4 linked regions of the Homo sapiens genome follow. The protein of the gene in region 1 purifies or fractionates together with the protein of each later gene. This does not show direct contact. Each region holds a gene or a part of one and is shown in the gene's direction. Other genes may lie near its edges. The genes, in order: YJU2B, RCCD1, UBR1 and ZZEF1.

Region 1 (7,845 bases):
GAGGCCCTAGGTGTGTGGATCACCTCAGGCCAGGAGTTCCAGACTGGCCTGGTCAACACAGTGAAACCCTGTCTCTACTAAAAATACAAAAAAATTAGCCAGGCTTGGTGGCGGGTACCTGTAATCCCAGCTACTCAGGAGACTGAGGCATGACATCACTTAAACCCAGGAGGCAGAGATAGTGAGCCAAGATCATGCCACCCCACTCCAGCCTGGGTGATAGAGTGAGACTCCGTCTCAAAAAAAAAAAAAAAAAAAAAAAGCCTGTAACAAAGAGCTTGCAAACCTGAGGAACAGCAGGTGCAGGCCAGCTGCACTTGGCCTTTGAAGACAGCCAGGAAGCCAGTGTGGCTGGAACAGAGTGAACGAGAGATAGAGGGGTAAGAGTTAGGCTTGGAGAGGCAGGCAGGGGCCCCACAGGCCGTGGGAAGGGGTTTGACTTGATTCTAAAAACCATATGAATCATGGGAGGGGTTTAAGCAGGAGAGTGACACGTTTGTTCATATTAAAAGATCCCAGCTGGGCATGGTGGCTCACACCTGTAATGCCAGCACTTTGGGAGGTTGGGGCGGGTGGATCATGAGGTAAAGAGATCAAGACCATCCTGGGCAACATGGTGAAACCCTGTCTCTATTAAAAATACAAAATTAGCTGGGTGTGGTGGCGCACGCTTGTAGTCCCAGCTACTCGGGAGACTGAGGCAGGAGAATCACTTGAACCCAGGAGGTGGAGGTTGCAGTGAGCAGAGATCGCGCCACTGCACTCCAGCCTGGTGACAGAGCGAGACTCCATCTCAAAAAACAAAAAGATCCCCTGGGCAGCTGTGGGGTGAGCAAGTGTCAAGGGCAGAGTCGGGAGAGAGAAGACCGTGCTGGCCCACGTGAGTGATGATGGGTGCTGGACCCGGTGGGGGCCACAGAGGGATGAAAGTGTCAGATGTGATGCGTATATTGGCTGTAGAGTGGACGGGACTCTCTCTTTCTAAACAGACACGCCGCTTTTTGGATGCCTCCTATGCCTGGCGGGAGTCTTGTCTGAGCTGGCACCACCACACGGCCCACGACATCTTCGCAGGGAAGCCTGTGGACCCTCTGCCAGGCTCCACAAGAGGTCAGGACAGTGCAGTGTGTTCACAAGGCCAGTTTCTGATCGTCCGCCCCGAGGCTGAGGACCAGTAGGCAGCTCCCAAGATGGTGAGTAGACAGCCTCGTGTGCCCTGGGTTTCTCTCCCAGTCTTTGTAGGACCCTGGAAGCAGCCCCTCCTCCCCTCCCAGAGCTCTAAGATGATGATTTCAATCTCCGGGTCATCATCTTTTGGTGCAGTGGGTCTGAAATGTGGCTTTGCGCTAACATCACCCATGGGCACTTTTTAAATGTTTTTTTGTTTCATTTTCTTTTGTTTTTGAGACAGTCTCACTTTGTTGCCTAGGCTGGAGTGCAGTGGCACGCTCTCGGCTCACTGCAACCTCCGCCTTCTGGGTTCAAGCAAGCACGTCCCACTAATTTTTGTATTTTTAGTAGAGACGGGGTTTTGCCATGTTGGTCAGGCTGGTCTGAAACTCCTGACCTCAAGTGATCCACTACACTCAACCTAAATTTCCCCTTCCCCCTTTCCCCTCCCCCTCCCCTACCCCTTCCTTTCTCTTTCTTTCTTTCATTTTTTTTTAACAAGGTGAAATTCATATAACATAAAATTAACCATTGCAAGGCCAGGCACAGTGGCTCACGCCTGTAATACCAGCAGTTTGGGAGGCCAAGGCAGGCAAATCATTTAAGATTAGGAGTTTGAGACCAGCCTGGCCAACATGGCGAAACCCTGTCTCTACTAAAAATACAAAAATTAGGCTGGGCGCGGTGGCTCACGCCTGTAATCCCAGCACTTTGCGAGGTTGAGCTGGGTGGATCACCTGAGGTCAGGAGTTTGAGACTACCCTGGCCAACGTGGTGAAACCCCGTCTCTACTAAAAATACAAAAATTAGCCAGGCGTGTTGGCGGGAGCCTGTAGTCCCAGCCACTCTGGAGGGTGAGGCAGGAGAATCGCTTGAACCCGGGAGGTGGAGGTTGCAGTGGGCTGAGAACATGCCACCACACTCCAGCCTGGGCAACGAAAGCGAAACTCCATCTCAAAAAAAAAAATACAAAAATTAGTTGGATGTGGTAGCACATTCCTGTAGTCCCTGCTACTCAGGAGGCTAAGGCACGAGGATTGCTTGAACTCAGGAGGCAGAGGTTGCAGTGAGCCAAGATTGCACCACTGCACCCAAGCCTGCGTGACAGAGCAAGACTCTGTCTCAAAAAAAAAAAAGAAGAAAACAAGAGCGACTCTTCAGCCAGGCTCAGTGTTCTTTCTTGAGACCTGTGTTCAACGGTACTACATGTGTATCTGCCCAGTGGCAATGTTAAATACTTCTTACCGTCAATCACAGTCTCCAAAAGAGTGTGAAAGCCACCATAGGAGCATCTGAACCTCATGGAATTTTCCAAAGCAATGACAATGGGTTTTTTGCCCAAGTAGCCCTTCCCCAATCAGACACTGAGCCCAGCACTGTCCTCTAAAATGTCCCCAAGTCCCCCTTATCCAGGTCCTGCCCCCTGAGGCTGCACAAGTAGGTTTCCTGGAGGGAGCCTGTGTATTAGTCCAGTCTCACGCTGCTCATAAAGACATACCCAAGGGCTGGGCGCGGTGGCTCACGCCTGTAATCCCAGCACTTTGGGAGGTCGAGGTAGGTGGGTCACAAGGTCAGGAGTTCAAGACCAGCCTGGCCAATATGGTGAAACTTTGTCTGTACTAAAAATACAAAAAAATTAGCTGGGCGTAGTGGCACATGCCTGTAATCCCAGCTACTCGGGAGGCTGAGGCAGGAGAATTGCTTGAATCCGGGAGGCGGAGGTTGCAGTGAGATGAGATCGCACCATTGCACTCCAGCCTGGGCAACAAGAGTGAAACTCTGTCTCAAAAAAAAAAAAAAAAAAAAAAAAGACATACTCAAGCCTGGGTAATTTATAAAGGAAAGAGGTTTAATTGACTCACAGTTCAGCATGGCTGGGGAGGCCTCAGGAAACTTAACAATCATGGCAGAAGGGGAAGCAAACACATCCTTCTTCACGTGGCAGCAGCAAGAATGAGCAAGAGGAAAAGCTCCTTGTAAAACCATGAGGTCTCTCGAGAACTCATTCGCTGTCATGAGAACAGCATGATTCGCCCCCATGATTCGATTCAGTTACCTCCCACCAGGTCCCTCCCATGACACGTGGGGATTATGGGAACTACAATTCAAGATGAGATTTCGCCTGTAATCCCAGCACTTTGGGAGGCTGAGGTGGGTGCATCACTTGATGTCAGGAGTTCAAGACCAGCCTGGCCAACATGGTGAAACCCCATCTCTACTAAAAATACAAAAAATTAGCTGGGCGTGGTGGTGCATGCCTGTAATCCTAGCTACTCAGGAGGCTGAGGCAGGAGAATCGCCTGAACTCGGGAAACGGAGGTTACAGTGAGTCAAGATCGCACCACTGCACTCCAGCATGGGTGACAGAGCAAGACTCCATCTCTAAAAATTAATAGTAAAATAAAAAATCAGAAAAAATTTTTTTGAATGAGATTTGGGTAGGGACACAGCCAAACCATATCAGCCTCTCTCTGAGTCATGTCTCTGTTCTGCTTTGCAGGGTGAAAGGAAAGGGGTCAACAAGTACTATCCTCCAGACTTCAACCCTGAGAAGGTAAGCAGGCTCTCCGCTCCAGGTCCACAGTAGCAAAAAGACCCACGTCATCCCCTCTTGGGGTTAGAGCCACTGCTGCGGAAGGATGGGTGGCCCCCAAGGTCTTTTTGTCTTCTGCATGTCACCTGAGTCTCGAGGCTGTCTTCACTTTTGGGTGATAACTGTGGCTCTCCTCAGGGACCTGTAACTCCATGTCCACACTATACTAGAGTATAGTGTGTTTACAGCAGGGGCCCAGGATAAGGCAGAGCGCACAGATGAAGGGTCAGATCCCATGGCTTCCCCAGCTCCAGCACCTGTGGCGTCCTGGTTGTCCCCTCTGCCTGGAATCTCTTCCTCCATTTCACCATACTCTCACTTCCTTAAGTGCTTTTCTCACAGAGGTCCTCCCTGACCACTGTCTCGTTCTCTGTTGCATTGCTGAGCACTTTATATAATCTCATAGCCCTTATAACTCCCTCACTTATTCATTTATTTGCGTCTTGTCCATCTCCCCCGCTAGAACATTCTCTCCCTGAAGGCAGAGATGTTCATCTATCTTATTGTGGCTGTGTCCCCACACAGTAGGTGCTCAGTAAGGGCCCAAGTGTCCCAGCTGCCTCGTCCTGAGTATAGGATTTAGCCTCTCTATGCCAAAGTTTCTCCATACGTCAGAAGGGGGAAATAAAATGAGCTGACCTCACAGAATCATTGAGGGATAAATCCTAGCTACTCAGGAGGCTGAGGTGGGAGGATTGCTTGAGCCCAGGAGGTGGAGACTGCAGTGAGTCATAATCATACCACTGCACCCCAGCCTGGGCTACAGAGCCAGACCCTGCCTCAAAAAAAAAAAAAAAAAAAGCCGGCGCCATGGCTCACGCCTCTAATCCCAGCACTTTGGGAGGCCAAGGCAGGTGGATCACCAGGTCGAGAGTTTAAGACCATCCTGGCCAACATGGTGAAACTTGATCTCTACTAAAAATACAAAAATTAGCTGGGCGTAGTGGCCCACACCTGTAGTCCCAGCTACTTGGGAGACTGAGACAGGAGAATCGCTTGAACCCGGAAGGCGGAGGTTGCAGTGAGCCGAGATCACGCCACTGCACTCCAGCCTAGTGACAGAGCGAGACTCTGTCTCAAAAAAAAAAAAAAAAAAATAAGGTGATGCACATGAAGTCCCCAGCGAATGTTTGCCAGTCTTGTCACCTCACCTCATCTTCCCCATAAAACCTGGAAGTAATAATGACCATTATACGTAGTTGACAGACAAGGGAAACAGAGGCTCGGGAAGGCAAAACGTGAGGTCACTCGCCCAGGGTCCCCTGGCTCTTTCAGCTCATAAATGGGAACAGGGCTGGGCGCAGTAGCTCACACCCGGAATCCCAGCACTTTGGGAGGCCGAGGCAAGTGGATCACCTGAGGTCAGGAGTTGGAGACCAGCCTGGGTGACATGGTGAAACCCCGTCTTTACTACAAATACAAAAAAAATAGCCGGGCGTGGTGGCAGGCGCCTGTAATCCCAGCTACTTAGGAGCCTGAGGCAGGAGAATCACTTGAACCCGGGAGGCAGAGGTTGCAGTGAGCCAAGGTCATGCCATTGCACTCCAGCCTGGGCAACAAGAGCAAAACTCCATCTCAAAAAATAAATAAATAAATAAGAGAGGGACTATTCAAACTCACGTTCCTGGTTCCAAGCCTACATGTTCCAGTAAGACCTGGATGCCCCCTATTGCTATGAACACCCGTCCTGCAGGACATAAGAATCAAGGCCTCTCCCACCTGTGAGACACTTGTCCCAAAGCAGTGGGGGTGGCAGAAAATTGTGAGCTCCTCCAGCTCAGCAGCACTAATCCGCTCCTCATCCTCTCCACACAGCATGGCTCTCTCAACCGATACCACAACAGCCACCCGCTTCGGGAGCGGGCTCGGAAGCTGTCACAGGGCATCCTCATCATCCGGTAAGGCCCAGCATCACCTGAGGACCCCACCGTCCTGCCCCATTCCTTCAGTCTCAAGGAGAGTTCAGTGCCCTCATTGGCCCAGTGCTGCAGGGTCTTCATTCCATAAAGCAGAAAGTCACCGTATCAGTCAGTTATTGCCGTGTGACAAAACAATAAGCATTTATTATTGCTCACATGTCTGCAGCTCAGCAAAATATCTCTGCTGGGCTTGGAAGAGCTTGGCTGGGCTGGGCTAGGCTGGCCTGATCTGGGCTGGGCTCCCATGTGTTTCAGAGTTGGCTGGCTGGGGACTGGCTGGTTTAGCAGGGACTTGACCTGTACAGCTGGGCTCTGCTCCGTGTTGTATCTCAACCTGTAGCAGGCCAGCCTGGACTTGATCACATAGGACTCTCAAAAAAGACAGTGATCGTAGTTGGGCACAGTGGGTCACGCCTGTAAACCCAGCACTTTGGGAGGGTGAGGCAGGTGGATCACTTGAGACCAAGAGTTCGAGAGCAGCCTGGCCAACACAGTGAAACCCTGTCTCTACTGAAAATAGAAAAAATTAGGCTGGGTGCGGTGGCTCACACCTGTAATCCCAGCTCCTCGGGAGGCTGAGGCAGGAGAATCACTTGAACTAGGGAGCTGGAGGTTGCAGTGAGCCAAGACCATGCCACTGTACTGCAGCCTGGCAACAGAGCGAGACTCCATCTCAAAAAAAAAAAAAAAATTCGCCGGAATTGGTGGCGCACACCTATAATCCCAGCTACTTGGGAGGCTGAGGCATAAGAATTGCTTGAACCCAGGAGGCAGAGGTTGCAGTGAGCCAGGATCGCACCACTGCACTCTAGCATGGGGAACAGAGCAAGACTCTGTCTCAAAAAAAAAAAGTCGCAGCAGCACCCAAAGGCGGCTGTCCCTGGACCTGGTCAGTCTGCTTTCTAGCAGGCAGGAAGTTCCTGCTCAGTTACAATGGTTGTGATTCTTTTTCTTCCATATATCCATTTCCTGTGTAATGTGAGTGCAGCAACTCCCGTTAACAGGGCAGTCTAATACCCCACCCCTCAAATCACAACCGCGGCCAGAGTCGCAGGTGTGGAGACCCAGGGAGTGTCCAAGTGGACAAGTGCAAGTAAGATGCTGTCTGTCTTTGCAGATTCGAAATGCCATATAACATCTGGTGCGATGGCTGCAAGAACCACATCGGCATGGGTGAGCCTCTGCCCACCCTCCATTCAGTCCTGCAAACATCAGACCCCCTAACTGCTGGATGCCGCCGGGGTGGGGGTGGGAGGGTCCTGATCAGGAATGAGGGAGGAGACGGGCACCCGAGTGACTGGCTGGCCATGGAAGCCCCTTTGCAGAGGGATTAGGAAGCCAGGCTCTGGCTTCCAATCCCGTCTCTAACTCCTCCTAGTTGGGGAACCCTCAGCAAGTGACAGTGAGCCTCTTTGTACCTCATTTTACCCATCTGCAAAATTCAGATGGCAATGAAATTACCACCCCCGCCTGACCCCCTTCCAGGTGTTCGTTACAATGCAGAAAAGAAGAAGGTGGGCAATTACTACACAACCCCGATCTACAGGTAAGGGCGGCTTGGTGGCATCTTGGGAACAGGTGGGGTGGCCACAGGGCGAGGGGGCTACAAAGAGCCTGAGTTGCGGGGGGAACCCATTCCCTGCAGGACTCCTGGAAATCGCCCTGGTTGGTGAATCAGGGCACACCCCACCCCCGCAACCCTCCATGGCTCCCACCTTCCTCAGTAAAAGCCCAAGTCCTCCCCCTGGCTCACAAGGCACCACACACTCTGCCTGTCCTTTCTTCACCCTAACCTCCTCCTGCTGTCCCCCTCCCTGGCCTCCTCGTTGTCCCTCACACACCCCAGGGACACACCCACCTCTGTGCTTCCACCTGGAATGCTCTTCCCCAGGTAGCTCCAAGGCTCCTCCCTCACCCGGGGTTTCTGCTCAAACAGCACCCCTCAGAGACACCTTTTCTAAAGTGAGACTTGACACTGGTTGCTTGTGCCCTTGCTATCAAGGTGGGCCCTGCTGGGACGTCAGCCTTTCCATGAGCAAGTTGGCTTTTCCACTACTCAGCAATTTCCCCAGCAGCTGGCACTGAGCCTGCCACAGAGCAGCCTGTCTTGGGCGGGTTTGTTGAATAAATGAACTAGTGGACAAATGAATGAACAAATGAATG
Region 2 (6,587 bases), on another chromosome or scaffold:
GGGGCAGGTGAGGGCTGCTGATTGGAGAAGCAAGCGGAGCGGGACCCCTTAATGCGACTGTAGCTGACGACGGTCTCCCTTGCTCAGGCATGGACAGCTGGGCCATGGGACCCTGGAGGCAGAGCTGGAGCCACGGCTGTTGGAGGCGTTGCAGGGCCTAGTCATGGCTGAGGTGGCCGCGGGGGGCTGGCATTCTGTGTGTGTGAGTGGTGAGTGACTTAGTGCTTCTCCAGACGAGCTCATGATCTTGTGCAAACCTTCCTCCTCGTTTTCCAGTTTGGGTGGGGGCCTACCCAGGCCTCCTTCCAAATTCATCCATCCATCGCCCAGTCAGTTATGACTCCTAAATGCCTCTCACCCTCGGCCTCCTCTGCCTGCACCATGGCCCACTCACGCCTGGACTCTGGCATTTGTTCCTAGCTTCTCTGTTACTGGTCTCACTGCCCCTCCCCTCCTCTCCCCACCTGCTCCCAGCCAGGACTGTCTCTTAACAGTGCTGCCGAGGGAGTATGGAGTGTGAGGGGGCAGCTGAGCCAAGGAAAACGCAGAAACGCTGCAGTTGCCTAGGGGGCCATGATGTGTGGCACAGGGTGGACACTGGGGTGCCCACCAGGCACCAGGATGGTGATGAGTGTGTCCCTGTGGTGGTGCCACAGCTGGCCAGAGTGAGGAGTTTCACTTGGTGATCCAGGTGTAGCTCCTTCCTAGGCTGTTAGAGCCCATGCAGAGAGGGTGAGGCTGGGAACAGATGATCTTTGTCTGTGTCTGGGGCTCTCATTCTGGCTGCTACGTAGATCACCTGGAAGCTTAAAAAATTACCAATGCCAGGGGGCCGGGCGTAGTGGCTCATGCCTGTAATCCCAGCACTTTGGGAGGCCGAGGTGAGTGGATCACGAGGTCAGGAGTTCGAGATCAGCCTGACCAACATGGTGAAACCCCGTCTCTAAAAAAAAATACAAAAATTAGCTGGGTGCAGTGGTGTGCGCCTGTAGTCCTGGCTACTCGGGAGGCTGAGGCAGGAGAATCGTTTGAACCTGAGAAGCAGAGGTTGCAGTGAGCCGAGATCGTGCCACTGCACTCCAGCCTGGGCGACAGAGCGAGACTCAGTCTCAAAAAAAAAAAAAAAAAAAAAAGAAAAGCTACCAGTGCCTTCCTCCACACCATATTCTCATGGAATGGGCCTGGGCTGGTTGCCAAGCTCAGGAAACCCTGGGCTGAGCCTCGCCAACGTGGCAAAACCTCGTCTTTGTACAAAAAATATAAAAATGAGCTGGGCGTGGCGGCTCGTGCCTGTGGTCCCAGCTACTCGGGAGGCTGAGGCTGGAGGATCACTTGAGCCACGCGTGAGTGGAGGTTGCAGTGAGCCAAGATCACACCACTGCACTCCAGTCTGAGTGACAGAGTGAGACTCTGTCTGTCTAAAAAAAAAAAAAAAACAAAAAAAAAAAACCCCAACCTTGGGCTGGAGAGACCAGAGGGCTGGAAACAGCCCAGTGGGACGCCCTGCACTCAAGGTCCAGAAGGAGTTTGAGGCCTTAAGTTTAGTGTAGAGGCTGAAGCACGGACACATCCCACCAGACTTCCTAGTTTCAGATCATTGCTCGGGCCCTGGGACCTCGGGCCTGGTACTTAACCCCCTCTGTGCCTCAGTTGTGAATAAAATAGGGATCCTGCGTAAATGGTGATATTGTCATAAAACCACCTGTAGGGCTATTGTGAGAATTAAGTGATTATATTTGAAAAGCATGTGAAACATCAGCATGGATTAAGCACTTCATAAAGCAGCTATTGTTAGAAATTTTTAGAATTAGGCAGCTGTTCCAACCAAAAAGCTCCAGTGTTGTGGGAGGCCAGGAAGGGGAGAGCTGCACGTGGCTTTCATCAGGACCGGCTGTGGGTGCAGTTGAAAAAGGGGCACAGGCCGGCCCAGTGGTTGTTTTATTTACTTATTTAGAGACAGGGATTTTGCCATATTGCTGAGGCTAGTCTCGAACTTTTGAGCTCAAGTGATCTACCCATCTCAGCCTCCCAAAGTGCTGGGTTACAGGCATGAACCAATGCACCTGGCCCTGGCCCAGTGGTTTTGAAAGGGAGACCACTGCGGTACTTCTAGGGATACATTTCTGAAATGAGGGGCTATTTGGCAGCATAAGAATGGAAGTAGAAGGTCCAGTAAGGGACTTAAAGGGTGATCTGAAGGCATTGAGGGGATGTGAACCTAAGACAAGCCCCTGGGGCCCGAGGGGAAGCGCCTTGGCCTGGAGTGCTACCTTGGGCAGGGCAGGCTTTAGTTGTCCCCAGGAGCGGATGCGATGGGGAGGAGAGTTTGGATGGATGCAGGGGCTTCACAGTCTGTTTCATGTGTCCCCTTGATCTCTTTCAGAGACTGGGGATATTTATATCTGGGGCTGGAATGAATCAGGGCAGCTGGCCCTGCCCACCAGGAACCTGGCAGAGGATGGAGAGACTGTCGCAAGGGAAGGTGAGGGTCATCTCGGCTCCCACAGCCGTCTCCCCAGGATGTGGCTGTCATTCCTAACTCCTGGCTGTATGCTGGCCTCAGAGCTACACTGCTCAGATGGAGCATGTGAGCCCCTTATGGGAGGGAGCATTGGCAAGGCTGATGCCGGTCTTGGCACAACACACTTGTGCAGCAGTGCCAGCCCTGCCTGCAGAATGTAGGGGTTGGGAGCACCAGCTTTGGAGCTAGGCAGTCGTGTACCTCAGAGCTGTTGTGGCAATAAGTGACTGCATGAATAAGATTTAGCTCAGGGCTCAGTTGGTGTTCACATCATTATTATCATTCTGAAGCCACAGAACTGAATGAAGATGGTTCTCAGGTGAAGAGAACGGGTGGGGCTGAGGATGGAGCCCCTGCCCCCTTCATAGCTGTCCAGCCCTTCCCGGCATTACTGGATCTCCCCATGGGCTCAGATGCAGTCAAGGCCAGCTGTGGATCCCGGCACACAGCTGTGGTGACACGTGAGTGGGGCTGGGAGGCACTCTGCTCCACTCGAGCTGGTGCCTACGGAAGGGGGTGTGGTCGACGGAAAAACTTCTGTCTTAAGGCTTCTGTGGCTCATACAGAGCAGCTACCTTGCTCAGTGGATAAGCCCCAACCCCCTTGTTGTTTCACAGTAGTTCCCCAGCCTGTCAGGCCCAGAAGTTTCTTCCTTCTGGTGGGAGGCTGATGCTTTCTGTCCTCCCTGCACGGCCACAGACACATTCCCTGCCCGCCGCCGCCTCTGACAGCAGGGACTGTCCAGTCTGGCATGGAAGACTGCGGCGCTCGGTAGCATGGCACACAGGAAGATCCGCCACTTTTTCCCTCGGGATCCTCTGCCATGCCACGTGTGATCAGCCAGTTGTTAAGAGAATATGTTGTTCCATGCCAGGCAGATCTCATGAGGATTGTAATATGCTAGCTGTGGGCTGTGCCAAGCTGGGCTGGACAGATGCCTTGCCAAAGAACCGTAGTGACAACTATCGATTGTCCTTTTGCTTTCAGGAACAGGGGAGCTCTACACCTGGGGCTGGGGTAAGTAAAAGGATTGTTTTTGTGACCCTGAAACCAAGGAGAAGAAAGACCTGGGAGTACAGGGCAGGTGACAAAGCCAACAAGACTGGAGGAAGCAGGGGCCTCGGCCAGGTCACTGGGAGGAACAGGACTGCTCCCTCCCTGGGGTTGGAACAGACATAGGCGCGCTCAGTCCGAGGCCAGACAGGGGAGACATGGAGAGGATATCGGTACCACCCGCCTACCTCTCTGAAAGACTGTCTTAAGGGAGTATCCAACCAGCACTTACAAAGCAGCTTTTTGTGGATGTGACACTGGGTGGAGAAAAAGATTCGATGGAAGTGTGTGCTCTGAACATCTTAGCTTGGATAGCAGGGAAGTCTGGAGGAGCGTCTTGCCTGGAGTGGCTGGTCGCCACTAGCCTCTTGGGGATCCCCAAGGTTGCCTGGCTCTGGGTCTCTTGGATTCACAGAGCAGTGGGGCATAATCCCAGCACTTCATTTGATAGTCTGGGCCCCTTCCTGGAGGGAAAGCAGCAGCAAGACCCAGTGGAGACGATGGCAAAGGGGCTGATTTCACTTTAGGTAAATATGGACAGCTGGGCCACGAGGACACCACCAGCTTGGATCGGCCTCGCCGTGTGGAATACTTTGTAGATAAGCAACTCCAAGTAAAGGCTGTCACCTGTGGGCCGTGGAACACCTACGTGTATGCTGTGGAGAAAGGGAAGAGCTGACATGTGTACGTATATGTATATGCAACACCTGTGAGACCCCCATTCAGGTCAAGGAAAACCATTGCCTGCACCCCAAGGGCCCCATATTTGCCCCTCCCCATCACAGTCCTGCCCTTCACCCTCAAGCACGGTCCTAAACTTGTCTGCACTTTAGAAACACCTGGAGAGCATTGAAAACTCTGCTGCCTAAGGTCAGCATCAATCAAAACAATGAAATCAATGAAACAATGAAACCAGAGCTTCTAGGTGTGTGGCCTGGATAGTGGTAGATTCAAAGCTCCACCCACCTCATCCCAGGTACATTTGATGTGCAGCTGAGATTGGGGCACATTCCAGGTCATCGTCTTCTGTCAGTCATTTCCCTGCTTTCGTTTGAATTTTACCATTCTTGTATGCAGCCTTATACGACATAGTTGTGTTTGCTTTTGAGTGTTAGATAAATGGAATCCTGTGTATGTGCTTTTGTGTCGTTTTTGTCACTCAGCATTGTATAATCCATCCTTGTTGGGTCCTGGAGTTCATTTTTAATGCTATATGGTGTTCTGTTGTATGAATAATACCTCAAGTGATACAGCCTTGTTGATGGTCATTTTTATTGTTTCTGATTTTGGTCATTCCACATAATTCTTTGTGCAGTCTTCTGCACATGTGCACAAGTTCCTTTGCAGAACATTGAGTTGAATTGCTAAGTCAGGAGATACCTTTAATTTTACTAGATAACTGTTGCCCCCAGCAGGGTGGGGTCTACTGTGGCTAAAATGTCAGGTAGATGCACACTGGTTTTAATTGGCATTTCCCTGGATACTGATGAGGTTGAGTAGCTTTTCATTTGTTTTGGATGGCTGGGCATGGTGGCTCACACCTGTAGTCCCAGCACTTTGGGAGGCTAAGCAGGGAGATTGCTTGAGGCGAAGAGTTCATATGTTTATTGGCCACTTGGAGTTTTTCTGTTGTCAAGTGCCTGTTCAAGTTTTCTGGCCTTTTAAAATGTTCTGTATTTTCCTTAGTGATTTTTCTTTTGGATATTTCAGATACAAGTCTTTTGAGAGTTAGTATTCAGAGTATCTTCTGCTACAATGTAGTTTGTTTCAGTCTCTCTTGGTATTACCAATTTTAATACTTAGGTGATGCTTACTCCATGCCAGGTAAGGCTCAAAGTGCTTTACAAGTATCAACTTATTTTGATAAAATAAGCTTATCAGTAGTTTTCTTTATAGTTAAATTCTATTTGTGCATGTGTGTGTCTGTGGTTTAGCAAATGTTTCCCACCCATGGGGTCTTTTTTATTGTGGTAAAATATACTGAACATAAAATTTATGTTCAATAAAAAACAAAAATTGTTTTTAACCATTTTAAGTACATAGTTCAGTGACATTATATGCATTCACTGTTGTGCAACCGTCACCCCTATGCATTTCCAGAACTTTTTCATCATTCTATGCTGAAACTCTGTGCATTAAACACTTAACTCGTCAGTCTCCCCTTCCCCAGCCCCAGGCAACCACAGTCCTAACCTTCTGTTCCTATGATACTGTAAGTGCCTCATGTAAGTGAAATCCCATAGTATTTGTCTTTTTATGACTGGCTTATCTCACTTAGCAGCATGTCCTCCAAGTTCATCCATGATGTAGCTTATGTATCTAGACTTCCTGCCTTTTAAAGGCTAAGATTCTGTTGTATGTATACACTGCGTTTTATTCATCCGTGCATTGGTGGATATCTGAGTTGTTCACTACAGTCAATAATGTTGCTGGGAACATGGGTGTACAACTCTCTTGAGTCTCTGCTTTCAGTTCTTTTGGATATATACCCAGAGTGGAATTGCTGGATTGTGTGGTAATTCTAAATTTTTTTGAGGAACTGCCCTGTTTCCCACAGAGGCTGCATCATTTTACATCCCCACTGGAAGTGCACACAAATCCTAATTTCTCCACATCCGCGTCCACACTTGTTTTCTATTTCTGGTTAACAGCCATCCTAATGGGTGTGAAGTGGTATTTCATTGTGGGTTTTTTTTTTTTTTTTTGGACAGGGTCTCTCTGTTGTCCAGGCTGGAGTACAGCCTCCACCTTCTGGGCTTAAGCCATCCTCCCGGGTAGCTGGGGCTACAGGCACGTGCCACCACATCTGGCTAGTTTTTTGTATTTTTAGTAGAGATGGGGTTGTTGCATATTGCCCAGGCTGGTCTCAAACTGCTGGGCTGAAGCGATCCACTTGCCTTAGCCTCCCAAAGTACTAGGATTATAGGCATGAGCCATCATGCCTGGCCAAGCCATTTTTTAAAATGGACAAAAGTCAACAAAGACGACAGAAGGATAGCAAGTGAGCATATGA
Region 3 (7,845 bases), on another chromosome or scaffold:
TGATAAAAGCCATTGCTTAAGAATTACCAGGGGAACTGATACTGTAGGTCTGAGGTGAGGTCCAAGAATCTGCATTTTCACAAGCATGTCCTGCTGATTCTGTAATAGTGGTGTATGGGCCACACTTTGAGTAACACTTAGCTAGGTATTTGGAAGTTATCAGTAAATTTATAGTTGAGGTTGTGGGAATGGATAACATCCTTTTTGTTTTGAGACAGGGTTTCGCTTTGTCACCCAGGTTGGAGTGCAGTGGCACAAACAACTCATTGCAGCCTCAATCTCTTGGGCTCAGATGATCTTCCCACCTCAACCTCCTGAGTAGCTGGGAATATAGGCATGTGCCACCATGCCGAGTTAATTTTTTGCATATTTTGTAGAGACAGGGTTTAATTTAATTTAATTTATTTAAGACAGAGTCCTACTCCATCACCCAGGCTGTGGTATAGTGGTGCCATCTTGGCTCACTATAACTTCCACCTCCCAGGTTCAAGCAATTCTTGTGCCTCAGCCTCCCAAGTAGCTGGAATTACAGGTGTGTTCCACCACACCTGGCTGATTTTTGTATTTTTAGTAGAGACAGGGTTTTGCCATATGGCCAGGCTGGTCTCGAACTCCTGACCTCAAGTGATCCATCTGCCTTGGCCTCCCAAAGTGGTGGGATTACAGGCGTGAGCCACTACGCCCAGCCCGGATAAGATCTTTGAGGAGGAAAATGTGTGCATATATATACACACACACAGAGGAAAAGAGAGTGAGACAGAGATGATGAGAAAGAGAGAACAGGAATGATTGAAACGGGTGGAAAATGGAAGAATGAGGTAAGAACGTGGAAACAATAGGCAAGCACGTAGGAGGTGAGAGTAGTGTGATGGCATGGGGTATTATTTTGAGAGGGTGGTTTATTGGGTCCATGATAATGAGGACTGAGAAAAATTGGGAATCAAGAGACTTGTGAGGTAGTCTGCCAGAACTTCTGCCTTCTGTCTTCCTCGACTAGATTTTCTTCCTTAAGTCAATTTCAGAAGATACCTCTTGGCATGATACTCAGCTCTTTTCTATTGCCTGTTTATAACCTCTACCTAGGGGATTTCATCTAGTTCTGTGACTTTAAATACCATTTGTATGTATTCAGTTCCCAAATTTATATCTCTGTGTCATCTCACTTCTGAACTCCAGAATCATAAATCCAACTGCCTACTTGACATCTTCACTTGGATGTCTGGTGTTTCAAACAGTGGGAGCAATTAAGAAGTTGCTGCTGTAACCCAAGCCATAGTTGATGGTAGCTTGCACTGGAAAGGTTATCCTTGGAGATAGAGTGAAGAGGATGAATGTGAGAAAGATTTTAGAAGGATGGAAGAAGCAAAAAGACTTGCTGATAGATTAGGCATGAGGCAAAAGGTAAGGAATAGATGATATCTGCATCCTCAGTTTTTGGTTTAAGCATTCATGGCAGCGGTTGTGTTGTTTCCAGCGGTATGATCTCGGCTCATTGCAACCTCTTTGTCCCAAGTTCAAGTGATTCTCTTGCCTCAGCCTCCCGAGTAGCTGGAATTACAGGCATGCACCACCATGCCTGGCTTTTTTTTTTTTTTTTTTTTTTTTTGTGAGCCAAGGTCTCTCTCTGTCGCCAAGGCTGGAGTGCGTGGCGAGATCTCGGCTCACTGAAACCTCTACCTCCCGGGTTCAAGCGATTCTCCTGCCTCAACCTTCCAAGTAGCTGGGATTACAGGTGCCTGCCACCACGCCTGGTTAATTTTTGTATTTTTAGTAAAGAGAGGGGTTTCACCATGTTGGCCAGGTTGGTCTTGAACTCCTGACCTCAGGCAAGCCGCCCACCTCAGCCTCCCAAATTGCTGGGATTATAGGCATGAGCCACCGTGCCCAGCCAGTTTTTTTGTATTTTTAGTAGAGGTGGGGTTTCACCATATTGGCCAGCCTGGTCTCGAACTCCCGACCTCAAGTGATCCACCCACCTCGGCCTCCCCAGTTGCTGGGATTACAGATGTGAGCCATCGCACCTGGCCTTGGTTGTGTCATATATTGAGAGGAAAGACAAGATTTTAGGAGAGGAAAGGAGAAAGGCAGATCAAGAGTTTTGTTGTCCCTGTCTCAGTAGACAGCACCTCCATCATAGCTCTTGAAGACAAATAATTCTGTCTCCACCCATGTAGTCCAAGTCACTCTCTGTTGTCTTGGCTACTGCAGTGACTTCCTAACTGGTCTGTTTGCTTCCACTGTTGCCCTCTTCCTGTCCATTCTGCACAGAACAACCAGAGTAATCTTTTAAAGATTAAATGAGATCATGTCAGTCTCCTACCTAAATCCTCAGTGGCTTTCTCTTATACTTATAAACTCATTACAAGCCTTCAAGACTTTGCCTGGTCCAGCCCCTGCATCTCCACCTCATTTCCTGTTACATTCTCCTCACTCATCCTGGCCTGTTAGTACAAGCCCAAGCTGTATTTTGCTTTAGGGTCTGTGCTGTTGCTTGCTGTTTGCTTTTCCTAGAGTGTTCTTCCTCTGCTTTTTCTTAATACACACTCTGTCTAAAAGATGGGTTCCTCTTATTCTCTGTCAAAGCAACCTGTTTATTTCTCCCATTTCAATTATTACAATCTGTAATTACTGTATTGTCTTTATTTACTTAGCAAAATGTCTGTTTCTTCCTCCAGAGGGAGAGGTAAGTTCCATGAAGGGAAGGATCATGTGTGACTTGTTCATTGATGCATCTTTTTTTTTGAGACGGAGTCTCGCTCTGTCGCCAGGCTGGAGTGCGTGGTGCGATCTCGGCTCACTGCAACCTCCGCCTCCCGGATTCAAGCGATTCTCCTGCCTCAGCCTCCTGAGTAGCTGGGACTACAGGGGCATGCCACCATGCCCAGCTAATTTTTGTGTTTTTAGTAGAGACGGGGTTTCACCATGTTGGCCAGGATGGTCTCGATCTCTTGACCTCATGATCCATCTGCCTCAGCCTCCCAAACTGCTGGGATTACAGGTATGAGCCACCATGCCTGGCCACATTGATGTATCTTGGTATGTGATTGATACAGAAGACACTTAAATATTTTTAAATGAATGAATAACTGAGGATCAACATTAATGATTTATTGTAGTAAGATTAGTAGTGATTGGTGGATGGAGGTTGTAGATAGAAAAAAGGGAATGAGCCGGCATGTTAGGGTAGTGGCTAACCTTCGAGTCCAGGCTGAACAGGGAGGTAATAAAAGCCAAAACAGGAAATCTGGAGGGAATTGGTGGGATTGAGGTGTTAAAGGGCATGAGGTTGACATAAGTGGGAGGACTGAACTTTGTGGTCAGAAAGGGGCATTTTAGAATTTGAGTACATGGGGGCACATCAAGTTTTTGTGATGGTAGAGCCAGGTTAAAGGCACCTCTTGGCCTGGTGCAGTGGCTCATGCCTGTAATCCCAGCACTTTGGGAGGCCGAGGTGGGTTTATTATGAGGTCAGGAGATCGAGACCGTCCTGGCTAACATGGTGAAACCCCTTCTCAACTAAAAATACAAAAAATTAGCCGGGCATGATGGCGGGCGCCTGTAGTCCCAGCTACTCAGGAGGCTGAGGCAGGAGAATGGCGTGAACCTGGGAGGCGGAGCTTGCAGTGAGCTGAGATCACACCACTGCACTCCAGTCTGGGCGACAGAGTGAGACTCCGTCTAAAAAAAAAAAAAAGAGGCACCTCTTGTGTGTTCCTATAGCACCCTTTCTATACTCCTGTTTTATGGTTTTATGTAGCGTGTCTCAGACTGTACTCTACGTTACCTGTTTACTATGTGTCTTTCCTTCTAGACAGTGAAGTTCTTGAAGGCCTGAACTGTTGCTTGTTCACAGCTGTATCTAGTTTCTAGCACATTGCTTCAAAGTTTTTATTGAATGTATGAATGAATGAATGAATGAGAAGACACTGAGGTAGAGAGGAAGTGGGGGTAATAGAAGCTGAGAATGTTAAGAGATATTAACATTATTGAGATATAATTTACATACAATAAAATGTACCCATTTAAGGCGTTTCTTGGATAAATTTTAACAAATGTATATACTTGTGTGACTACCACCAAATCAGGTTATAGAATATTTCTGTTATTTCCCAAAGTTGTCTCCTGCTGAAATGGGAGGATTTTTTAAAAGTTTAATATTGTTATGGTTACGCAATAATCATTATGGAAATCAAAGAAAAATGTACCCATAATCTCATATCTGTAGGGGAACTTTTTTTTTTTGTTTTTTTGGAGACGTCACCCAGGCTGGAGTGCAGTGGTGCAATCTTGGCTCTCTGAAACCTCTGCCTCCTGGGTTCAAGCAATTCTCTTGCCTCAGCCTCCCGAGTAGCTGGGATTACAGGTGCACACCACCATGCCCACCTAATTTTTGTATTTTTAGTAGAGACGGGATTTTGCCGTGTTGGCCGGGCTGGTCTCAAACTCCTGACCTCAGGTGATCCACCCGCCTCAGCCTCCCAAAGTGCTGGGATTACAGATGTGAGCCACCGTGCCTGGGCTATAGGGGATCTTTAAAATACAACATAATCTCTTGACTTCAATATAGAAGTGAGGAGTTATATGTGATTTTAATTGGAGATGATTTTCCTTAGAAATTTGAATCTATATTGTTTTAGGCCAGAGCACAGTTTTGTGTAGTAAGGACACACTCTGAGTGGGAAAACTGATGAAAATGTAGGTCTTTTGAGTCTAACTGAAGTACTTTGTCACCAGATCTTAGCAAGACCTAATGGCTTTTGTTTTTTCACCATCTCATAATTTCTATTTTGGGGAGTTAGGGAAATTTTGATTTTTTAATGCCAGATTCTATAGAATTAGATGTGAAATTGAGTTCTAAAACTCTAAGTCAAAATGACTGATTCAGCCCCACTAACTAAGAGTCTAGGGAAGGAACAGTAACTTAGTGTAGATGTGCTAGTGCTGGAAACTGACTTCTTATAATACCAAACATCCTGCAAATGAAAAGGTTTTTGTCCTCAGTACTGCACAAAGAGTGTGTCTGGATAGATACTTTTATAAATCAGTGATACAGATGAACCAGTGAAATACAGGCATACCTTATTTTATTGAGCTTTATTATTGTGCTTTGTAGATAATCAGTTCTTTACAAATTGAAAGTCTATGGCAACCCTGTCTCAAGGAAGCCTTTCAGTGCCATTTTTTCAACATTGTGTGCTCACTTCGTGTCATTGTGTCACATTTTGGTAATTCTCACAATACTTCAAACTTTTTCATTATTATATCTGTTATGATGATCTGTGATCAGTGACCTTTGATGTTACTATTGTAATTGTTTTGGGGTGCCATGAACCACATCCATAAAAGACAGCAAACATAATAAAAAAAGCTGTGTTTGTTCTGACTGCCCCACTGACCAGCTACTTATCCATCTCTCTCCGTCTCCTTGGGCATCCCTATACCCTAAGATGGGACAATACTAAAATTAAGCCAGTTAACCCTACAATGGCCTCTAAGTATTCTAGTGAAAAGGAAAGTTCAACATTTCTCACTTTAAATCAAAAGCTAGAAATGATGAAGCTTAGTGAGGAAGGCTGTTGAAAGCTGACATAGGCCAAGAGTTATGCCTCTTGTGCCAAGCAGTTAGCCAAGTTGTGAATGCAGAGGAAAAGTTCTTGAAGGAAATTAAAAGTGCTACTCTAGTGAACAGACAAATAATAAGAAAGTGAAACAGCCTTACTGATGATGTGGAAAAAGTTTTAGTGCTCTGGATAGAAGATTGAACCAGCCACAATATTCCCTTAAGGCAAAACCTAATCAAAGAGCAAGGCCCTCACTCTCTTCAGTTCTCCGAAGGCTGAGAGAAGTGAGGAAGCTGCAGAAGAAAAGTTGGAAGCTGGCAGAGGTTGGTTCGTGATGTTTAAGAAAAGAAACCATCTCCACAACATAAAAGTGCAGCGTGAAGCAGTAAGTGCTGATTGATGGAGAAGATGCAGCAAGTTATGCAGAAGATCTAGCTAAGATAATTGATGAAGGTGGCTACACTAAACAGATTTTCCATGTAAACGAAACAGCCTTCTGTTGGAAGAAGATGCCATCTAGAGCTTTCATAGCTAGAGAGAAGTCAATGCCTGGCTTCAAAGGACAGGCTGACTCTCTTGCTAGCGGCTAATGCAGCTGGTAATTTTAAGTTGAAGCCAATTTCCATTTACCATTCAGAAAATCCAAGAATACTTAAGAATTATGCTACTCTGCGTATGTTGAATAAATGGAACTAGAAAGCCTGGATGACAGTACATCTGTTATAACATGATTTACTGAATATTTTAAGTCCACTGTAGAGAACTGCTGAGAAAAAAAAAAGATTCTTTTCAAAATATACTGCTTATTGACAATACATTTGGTCACCCAAAAGCTCTGATGGAGATATACAAGGAGATAAATGTTATTTTCATGCCTGCTAACACAATATCCATTCTGTAGCCCATGGATCAAGGAGTAATTGCAACTCTCAACTCTTACTATTTAAGAAACACATTTCATAAAACTATAGCTTTCATAAATTACGATTCCTCTGATAGATGTGGGCAAAGTCAATTGAAAAACTTTTGGAAAGGATTCAGCATTCTAGATGCCATTAGGAACATTCATAGTTTGTGGGAGGAGGTCAAAATATCAACATGAACAGGAGTTTGGAAGAAGTTGATTCCAACCCTCCTGGATGACTTTGAGGGGTTCAAGACTTTAGTAGAGGAAGTAACTGCAGATGTGGTAGAAATAAGAGAACTAGAATTAGAAGTGGAGGTTGAAGTTATGACTGAATTGCTGTAAACACATGATAAAACTTAATGGATGAGGAATTGTTTCTTCTGGATGAGCAGAGAAAGTGGTTTCTTGAGATGGAATCTACTTTTGGTGAAGATGCTGTGAACATTGTTTAAATAAGAACAAATGATTTAGAATATTCCATAAACATAGTTGATAAAGCAGCCGCAGAGTTGGCAAGGATTGACTCCAGTTTTGAAAGAAGTTCTGCCATTGGTAACATGCTATCACATGCTACAGAGAAATCTTTTGTGAAAAGGTCAATCAATGTGGCAGACTTCATGGTTGTCTTATTTTAAGAAATTGCCTGGCCGGGCGCGTTGGCTCACGGCTGTAATCCCAGCACTTTGGGAGGCCGAGGTGGGCGGATTGCCTAAGGTCAGGAGTTTGAGACCAGCCTGACCAACATGGTGAAACCCCATCTCTACCAAAAATACAAAAATGAGCCAGGCGCCTGTAATCCCAGCTACTCGGGAGACTGAGGCAGGAGAATTGCTTCAATCCGGCAGGCGGAGATTGCAGTGAGCCCAGATCGTGCCACTGCACTCCAGTCTGAGGGATAGAGTGAGACTCTGTCTCAGAAAAAAAAAAAAAAAGAGAGAAATTGCCATAGCCACCCCCACGTTTAGCAATCACCAACCTAATCAGTCAGCCATTAATATTGAGGGAAGATCCCCCTATCAGCAAAAAGATGACAACTTTCTAAAGACTCAGATGATCATTAGCATTTTTTAGCAGTATTTTAACATTAAGTACATTTTTAAAGACTTCATACTATTGCACTCTTAGTATAGTGTAGTGTAAACATAACTTTCATATGCATTGGGAAACCAAAAAAATTTGTGTGACTCACTTTATGTTCACTCTATTGTGGTAGTCTTAAACTGAACCCGAAATGTCTCTGAGGTGTGCCTGTATCTTGCCCATCCTTTCTTTGGATGCTGACTTTGAGGGTTACCTCGGAGTTCCCTTGCTGCCACTTTATCCATTTCTGTAAAGGTATTAAGCATATGCTGTGCTCTGTGAAATAATTTTCCTTAA
Region 4 (7,845 bases), on another chromosome or scaffold:
TCTACTATATAATATATTAATTATTTTCTTTGTTTCGGTAGATGTGGGCCAGTTTCTGGCAAGCATGAGAGCGATTTTGGAATCCCTTTTCTCACAGTACAGTGGAAAAACCATAGTAGAAAGATTATGTAACTCAGTGTTTTCAATGGCAGCTCGTCAACTGGTAAGAAAAACTAGCAGCTATTTGTAAAGAACCGGAAGGGGGTTGGGGGTCTGCATCCCCAGGCCCAGCCTAAGGTGGACGCTGAGTGCTTCATCCATCTTCCATTAGGTTATCTTCCTGCTGGACTTCTGCACTTTAGACATCCCACACTGCGTGCTCTTGAGAGAGTTCAGCGTCCTCACAGAACTCCTGAAGAAGCTCTGTAGTGGCCCCGAAGGAGGACTGAGGAAGGTAACTCGAGTCAGCACTTGAGCCGCCCCGTGTTCTCTCTCAGGAGTGATGGGACACACTTAGTGAAGTGGACCACGGACTGCAGATAGGCACAGCTGAGCAGCCTCTAGAAGGCTCCCTTGATTTTATCAGTGGGCTTGCCAACAAGGGTGAATGTCAGTCCAAGTCGATGTGGCCTGGTCAGCATTAGAAAGGAGACGCAGAGGCCGGGCGCAGTGGCTCACGCTTGTAATCCCAGCACTTTGGGAGGCCGAGGCGGGCGGATCACGAGGTCAGGAGATCGAGACCATCCTGGCTAACACGGTGAAACCCCGTCTCTACTAAAAATACAAAAAAAATTAGCCGGGCGTGATGGTGGGCGCCTGTAGTCCCAGCTACTCGGGAGGCTGAGGCAGGAGAATGGCGTGAACCCGGGAGGCGGAGCTTGCAGTGAGCCGAGATTGCGCCACTGCACTCCCGCCTGGGCCACAGAGCGAGACTCCGTCTCAAAAAAAAAAAAGAAAGGAGACGCAGAAAAAGCTGTAGAGATGAATCTCATCATTTTATAGTTGATGAAGTTATATAAAAACCATGTAAGTGAGTGACAAAATTGAAGTCTAGAAGAGAAAATGTATGTTGAAAGGCAAATTACATTTTGTCTTTAGAAGAAATTTCTCCCTTACTTAATTATACATACATAACGTTTAATCACTGTCTTGTGTGAGCTTCTTCTTGTGTGTCTTTTGTGTGCCACAGAGCACAACTCTGTGGCAGTAGAAAAGGCATTTATATTTAACAGGTAAAAAACCAAAGGCCCCCCCCCAACCCCCCGCTCAAAAGAAAAGGGTAGGAGAGGAAGGGAGAGTAGATCCAGATTTGCCAGTGTCCCAGGTAGGAATGTGAGGTCTTTAAACTCCTCATTCAGTACTTTTTCCACTGGGAATTCACACTGGTAATGATTTGTAAGTAGTTCTGTCATAGCGAAAAGGTACAAGCTGGTCATGGAGTTTTTGTGTGTAATAAAAGCACATCTCCTCGGCTGCGTGGTGGACGTGTGTTGATCTGTGTGAAGATGGGAATGTCAGGTTTGTCTTCGAGCCTGCCTGCTGGTTTGTGCAGGGCTGTCAAGGCCATCTGCCTGGAGCACTGATAGAGAAACAGTCTGCTGCATGTGGCTAGGTGTCTAGTGATAGAACCTTTCTTTCCCCTGGCTCATTTGTTATCATAGCTGGATGTTGAGACCTGGCAACAGGAACAGCCTGTGGTGTTACATACGTGGACGAAGGAATCTGCCCACAACTATGAAAATAATTGCCATGAGGTATCCGTCTTTGTTAGCCCAGGGGCAACCTATTTTGAAGTGGAATTCGATGACAGGTGTGAAACTGAAAAAAGGTAAGACTTCTATATTCTTTCACCCCCAAGCGCTAATAGGTCAGCAATGAGAGAAGGAAGCTAATAGAGGTTATGCCTTCACAGGTATGATTATCTGGAATTTACCGACGCTAGAGGTCGGAAAACACGCTATGACACAAAAGTTGGCACTGATAAATGGCCCAAGGTGAGTGATAGTCCCAGAAAGAGGTACCTACTTCTGCACCAATGCTTTTCCTTTTGTCAGCCTTCAGGGGGCAGTAGAGGTAAGGTCTTTGAAGGGAGGCATTTATGTTACACGTTTGTGAAAGGAAGGATTTATATCAGAGTTTGACCAGCTATAGTCTGTCACCTGTTTTGTAAACAAATTTTTTTGGAACACAGCCATGCCTGTTTATCATTTATAGCTGCTTTGGCACTGCAGTGGCAGAGTTGAGTAGTTGCAGCAGACAGCGTTGTCTAGAGTAAATGAAGAGCCTTCATCCTTAGCAAGAAGTGCTGGTGGGTCTAGGAGGATGGCCCAGACCATGTGATGGAAGCCAAGAGTCTGCCTCACAGTTAGAGCTGCTTGAGCTCTTGGGCTGGAGGTTTAGTACTGCCTCAGACTGTTGACCTTCTCTCCATGGTCAGTGGTCTTGGCAGGAGCAGAGGCATGGAAATGTGACCACTGGCTGAGTCGGTAGTGGACAGATGGTCACCCCAGGTGTAGAAAGCTGAGCAGCAGTATTCTGCCAACTCTCCTTCTTCATGGGGTGTGGCTGTGAATGGTCTGTTTCCGTCACCCCTTTGTACATTTCTCCGTTAGTCATTTTGGACATGTGGAAATAGAGATCAATTTTAAACTGAGATGTTTCTCGTCATGAAGAGCATGCTGATTTCTGAAGCACTCCTCCTCTAATCTGTCTGACCACATGATTTCTGTTTGTCTCTAGAAAGTGACCTTCAAGGCCGGTCCTCGGTTGCAGTTCCTCTTTCACTCTGACAGCAGTCACAACGAATGGGGCTACAAATTCACTGTCACTGCCTGTGGGCTGCCCGATGTTGCCGTGTCTTGGGGGCTGGATTTACAGCTCCTCGTCTCCCGGCTGATGGGACGCCTGGCTTCCCAGTGCATGGCGCTCAAGTCTGTGCGCCGTAAGTGCACATCCCTGTGCTTTCCCTTCTTACAACCACGGTGAAGTGCAAGATGCGCGCTTGCCCTCTTGTAGGTCGTTTCCACGTAATGGCAGGGGGTTAATAATACGCCTTTTCAGTTTCCTTTAAACCGAAAGAATAAAGTGTCCACTCAATACCATTGTCACGAAGCTTTTTGCCTTAGACTTTGGAACATAGCAGGAAGGCTGCCATGGGTTCTCTGTCTATGGAGGATAACAGCTTTTTTTTTTGGCAACATTGTCATTTTTTTGCAAGTAGGTGTAGGTATAGTCCAACCAAAAGGCAGGAGTATAGAATAAGTTGATTGCATATCCTTTAAATATGTGAATATTTATGTAAATATATGTAGATATGTGACTATGGATTTTGTTTTAAAGTGATTCATTCAGGGCTGAGCAAGGTGGCTCATGCTGGTAATCCCAGCACTTTAGGAGGCCAAGGTGGGAGGATTTCTTGATCCCAGGAGTTTGAAACCAGCCTGGGCAGCATAGTGAGATCCCTATCTTTACCAAAAAAAATGTAAAAATTAGCCAGGTGTGGTGGCATATGCCTTTTGTCTCAGCTACTTGGGAGGCTGAGGCAGGAGGATCACTTGAGCCCAGGAGTTAGAGGCTGCATGCAGTGAGCTGTGATCATACTGCTGCACTCCAGTCTGGGTAACAGAGAGAGACTCTTGTCTCTTAAAACAAAAGGAAAAAGATGTGTTCAGTATAATTGTTTATTTAATTCTTCCAGGGAACAAGAATTACAGAATAAAACTTTCTACTGTATTTTATTTCTTGATCATTTCTTGAGTTTTTCCAGTTTTAGAAGTAAAATATAGAAAAATTACATAGTGGAAAAAAACAAAGGAAAATAGAATCATCCTTAATCCTAACACTCAGAAGTAACTGATTTTTTTAATATTTCTCCAAGAAAGAAAGAAATAGCTATTAGCATTTTTATTTCCACCTATTCTTTTCTCTTTGCCTATTCTAAACACATCTATGCTGGATATTTATTATTTGCTACAGAATTAAGTTTACAAATTGTGAATGTTTTTCCATAATTAAATGTTCCTGAATGGCCTCGTGTTATATGCCAGAAATGGTTCATATCCTATTTTCAGCTTACTATAAACAGATTAGTCATTTCCAAGGTACCTTGTAACTGAAGTTGTTCCACAGAGCAGCAGTATTTCAGGACTTGGTGGTTTAGCTTAATCTGTGGTATGTGTTTACAAAGTATCACAATTACATTCTGGTATGTGGGTAAACTTTCTCTAAGTTTTAATAGTATCCATGGTTTTTTTTAACCTTTTCTTTCTCATTTCAAAGATTCTCAATATATTAAGGCAAAAATAGAACTGTCATATGTCTTCTTCTCTTTCTAGAGTTAGGAAGTAACATGGTAGTACCTCAGGCAAAAATGGCATTAGTCCTAAGCTCCCCACTGTGGAAACCTGTCTTCAGGCATCAGGTTTGTCCAGAGTTGGAATTAGAAGCAAGCTGGCCCACTCACCCACACCGGAATAGTAAGGAGGTATTTACTCTTCCGTTTTCTTTCTATTTAGACTGGAAACTGCCTGCAAGTATTTATTACTTTAAGTTATAAACACTTGTGTTTCTATCTTACTACCCGTATTAAGCAGTTAGCTCCTTGAGGCCAGAAACTATACCTTGTTAACTTGTTAACGCCACCGTGTCCCACAGGGGCCAGTGCGCAATAGGTGTTCAGAAATACTGAATGCGTGACTTGGGTGAAATGTAGGAGGTGCTCAGTAAATCTCTGTTGATGGAGTTATCAGGCAAACAATTGAGTGTACTTCTAGTGCCTACTGAGTCAAGCTTTAGAGCAATGATTTGTGCTATACCTTTTGTTCTCCTTAGAATTACAGCACATGATTTAGGTGTATAAGATTTTAAAAACTAAAAAGTTTGCCCTGTCTTTATTTTTCACCTCTCCTTCCCTCTATTTCTGTATTCTACTTTTCTTCCTTCCCCTCCCTGCCCTGCCCCACGTTATTCAGTAGTTAATTGCCAAATCCAGTGGCTCTTCCTCAGCTTCTGTTCTCCTTGCCTCTGTTAAATTTGGCTCCTTCAGACCCTCTCTTCTTTGGATCCATGCTAGTCCGCTGTCTTCTCTTACATCTGACTGCCCACTTGCCTCCTTCATTGACTTTTCATATTCCTCCTTCCCTAAAGGGTAGGCTTTATTCAGGCTTTCTTCCCTTCCCCACAGCCCACCAAGACTTCATCCTCTCCACTTTCTTCTCCTGTCAAACATTGTGGCCCTAATTCCTAATATCAGTCTCCAGGTCTGGTTTTCTCCCCGCTCCAAGTACCTGTTTCCATCTTCCTGTGAGGCATTTCCATTTAAATGTCCTGACTCCCCTTAACTCAGAAGTGTAAAACCAAAGACCGGTCACTTCTGTGGTGGTCAGTGTTCCCCAGGCCTGAAGCCACTGCTCCCTAGCATCCCCTGTCCTCACCTGTCTCCCCATTCCTGTCCAGTCAGCTTGCAGGTCCTGTGGATTCTTCCTCATGATGTTCATCTCTGTCCTTTCCTCTGTCTGCATCTTTATCCGGGCCCTCATTTGCACCTGCCTTATGACATTCGTACCTACCAAGTTTTTTTTATAATCACTGCATTATCTTGTCATTCCACTGCCAAGCACCATTAATGGCTCCCCATTGCCCACAGGGTGAAGTCTAACTCCTCAATGTGACAGTCAAGGCTCTCTGCAGTCTCCTTTCACCTTACCTATCTGACTCTAGTTCCCATCACTCCCCAGCTGAGACTTCAGGCCAGGTCAGTCTCCCCACTGACTCGTAACCTCTGCTAATGGTTATGTTCCTCAGAGCCAAATCTGCCAATCCTTCAGGGTCCAGGCCAAAGCCCATATCCTCCAGGAGGCTTTTCTTAATTACTTTAACCTACCAGGATCTCTCTCCTTTGAATTCTCAGCACTGGGTATCCCTTCTAGGCATTTGGCACTTGATAATCTTTTGCTTTACGGGAATGCTAGTTCTAATGCTTTTAATGTTTTATTTATGTTTATCTTTTTTTAACTCATATCTCTGTCTGGTCTTCCTAAAATAGATTTAAACTTCCGGAGAGTGTTCACTGTGTTTTATACTTCTGCTTTGGCCTAATAGTTTGCTCAATAAATTTTATTTTTTGAATGAATGTGTTAAATGTGATGGGTTTATTTTTTGTTTCCAGGTTAAGAACATTCCTGACGACCCCTGCCGCCATTTTCTTCTTGATTTTGCCCAGTCAGAGCCTGCTCAGAACTTCTGTGGGCCATATTCAGAACTTTTCAAAGGATTCATACAGGCATGTAGAAAACAGGCCCCAAAGACAGATATAGTTGCTGGTTCCACTATTGATCAAGCTGTGAACGCCACCTTTGCTGCTCTGGTGTATCGCACTCCAGATTTATATGAGAAGCTGCAAAAATATGGTAACTTTATTACAGGGAATATTTTTGATCTGAAGGCTAATTGCTAAGTTTTAAGAAAGCCTATCTTAAGTGAACATTTAAAATATTTTAAAATATAAACACATTTCTATAACTGTAAACATCATCTTGTTGGTTCTACTTTGCCTATTAAAAGATTCATGGCCACTTTATGGTTAGCAGATTATAATGTGTGGCACCTAACCTTGAGTTGCAAAATTAGCAGGTAAATTATCTTTATCCAGAATTCTCATGGAAAACTGCTGAGAAATTTAATGGAAAGAAACCTTAACTTGGGTCCTGGTCCCAGTGCAAAAACTCAAAAGTTGTGCAGCTTCAGGTTAATCAGACGACCTTTCTGCACCTCAGTTTCTTTATCTGTAAAATTGGTTTAAGGGTGATTCGCTCTAACATTCTAAGAAATTCCAATTAAAACCACAGATGTTTAAGTTCTTGAATGTAGTAATAACCAAGGAGGAAGCTGTAGGTATTAACTATTACCTTTAGCTAGCTTGCAGCGCCTTCGTAGCATCACCCCACTAGGCTTCCTTTGCTGATAACCTTCTCCTCACCATCTCTTTTCCTCATGTCTCTTAGGGATGCCATCTCTGTATTTACCCTGCTTCCCTGCCGCCTAGCAGGACCCACACGGAGGGAGAGTCTCTCTCTACCTTCATACTAATTCAGGGGAAAAGTGTTTCAAGCCCTACCTAGAGATAAGGCATGGGCTTCCTAACCGCCTGGCAGGGTATGTCTTCTCCACGCAGCGCAGGCGGGAGAAGCAAAAACAGAGCTTCCTTCCACTAGAGTGGGTAATTGACTGTTGCTCATTTTGTTTTGTTTTGTTTTACTTTTTGAGACGGAGTCTCACTCTGTCACCCAGCCTGGAGTGCAGTGGCGCGATCTTGACTCACCACAACCTCCACCTCCCGGGTTCAAGCGATTCTCCTTCCTCAGCCCCCCGAGTAGCTGGGATTACAGGCACCCATCAACACGCCCGGCTAATGTTTGTATTTTTAGTAGAGACGGGGTTTCGCCCTGTTGGCCAGGCTGGTCTTGAACTCCTGACCTCAGGTGATCTGCCTGCCTCAGCCTCCCAAAGTGCTGGGATTACAGACGTGAGTACCGCGCCCAGCCTCGTTTTGTTATTATTGATATTTTTATTCCTACCACCTTTATTGCTCATTTCTTTGGATCTCACATTGCAGAATTTATTTTCTGATTGTTAAAACATCTTGATTACATCCCCAAATCTTAATATCTCCTTTAAAAAGCTGCTCAAATAAACAAAACTGTGTTGAGACATGAGTGATTTATGGAAACAAATGTCATATGGAAGAGTTTTTCTCTGCTGAGGAATCGAGGGGGTGATGTAACCTGTATGGTTTTGGCGGGGGGAATGTCAATATGTATTTTTGTAATCAAATTATAGTAAGAAAGCTGGATAATCTTTTTACTTGAAGGAATTTTCAGTAGAGGGATAAAAGCCTGTGGGTTAAAA

What was found.
Region 2: the proteins of YJU2B (region 1) and RCCD1 purify together in Homo sapiens (affinity purification with mass spectrometry; 2 studies listed by BioGRID and IntAct, with this or other methods). This does not show direct contact.
Region 3: the proteins of YJU2B (region 1) and UBR1 purify together in Homo sapiens (affinity purification with mass spectrometry; 3 studies listed by BioGRID and IntAct, with this or other methods). This does not show direct contact.
Region 4: the proteins of YJU2B (region 1) and ZZEF1 purify together in Homo sapiens (affinity purification with mass spectrometry; 3 studies listed by BioGRID and IntAct, with this or other methods). This does not show direct contact.

The regions. Positions count from the first base shown.
Region 1 is NC_000019.10:13,750,619-13,758,463, forward strand, and holds part of YJU2B (probable splicing factor YJU2B), read left to right. Parts: intron 1-989; 5' UTR 990-1,190; coding exon 1,191-1,193; intron 1,194-3,670; coding exon 3,671-3,724; intron 3,725-5,578; coding exon 5,579-5,661; intron 5,662-6,799; coding exon 6,800-6,855; intron 6,856-7,167; coding exon 7,168-7,228; intron 7,229-7,845. UniProt on the Homo sapiens protein: May be involved in mRNA splicing.
Region 2 is NC_000015.10:90,957,517-90,964,103, forward strand, and holds the end of RCCD1 (RCC1 domain-containing protein 1), read left to right. Parts: intron 1-87; coding exon 88-209; intron 210-2,383; coding exon 2,384-2,482; intron 2,483-2,811; coding exon 2,812-2,982; intron 2,983-3,508; coding exon 3,509-3,538; intron 3,539-4,101; coding exon 4,102-4,253; 3' UTR 4,254-5,609; downstream 5,610-6,587. UniProt on the Homo sapiens protein: Plays a role in transcriptional repression of satellite repeats, possibly by regulating H3K36 methylation levels in centromeric regions together with KDM8.
Region 3 is NC_000015.10:43,095,730-43,103,574, reverse strand, and holds part of UBR1 (E3 ubiquitin-protein ligase UBR1), read left to right. Parts: intron 1-7,845. UniProt on the Homo sapiens protein: E3 ubiquitin-protein ligase which is a component of the N-end rule pathway. Recognizes and binds proteins bearing specific N-terminal residues that are destabilizing according to the N-end rule, leading to their ubiquitination and subsequent degradation.
Region 4 is NC_000017.11:4,069,186-4,077,030, reverse strand, and holds part of ZZEF1 (zinc finger ZZ-type and EF-hand domain-containing protein 1), read left to right. Parts: intron 1-41; coding exon 42-163; intron 164-271; coding exon 272-394; intron 395-1,601; coding exon 1,602-1,768; intron 1,769-1,852; coding exon 1,853-1,934; intron 1,935-2,679; coding exon 2,680-2,881; intron 2,882-4,274; coding exon 4,275-4,423; intron 4,424-6,106; coding exon 6,107-6,347; intron 6,348-7,845. UniProt on the Homo sapiens protein: Histone H3 reader which may act as a transcriptional coactivator for KLF6 and KLF9 transcription factors.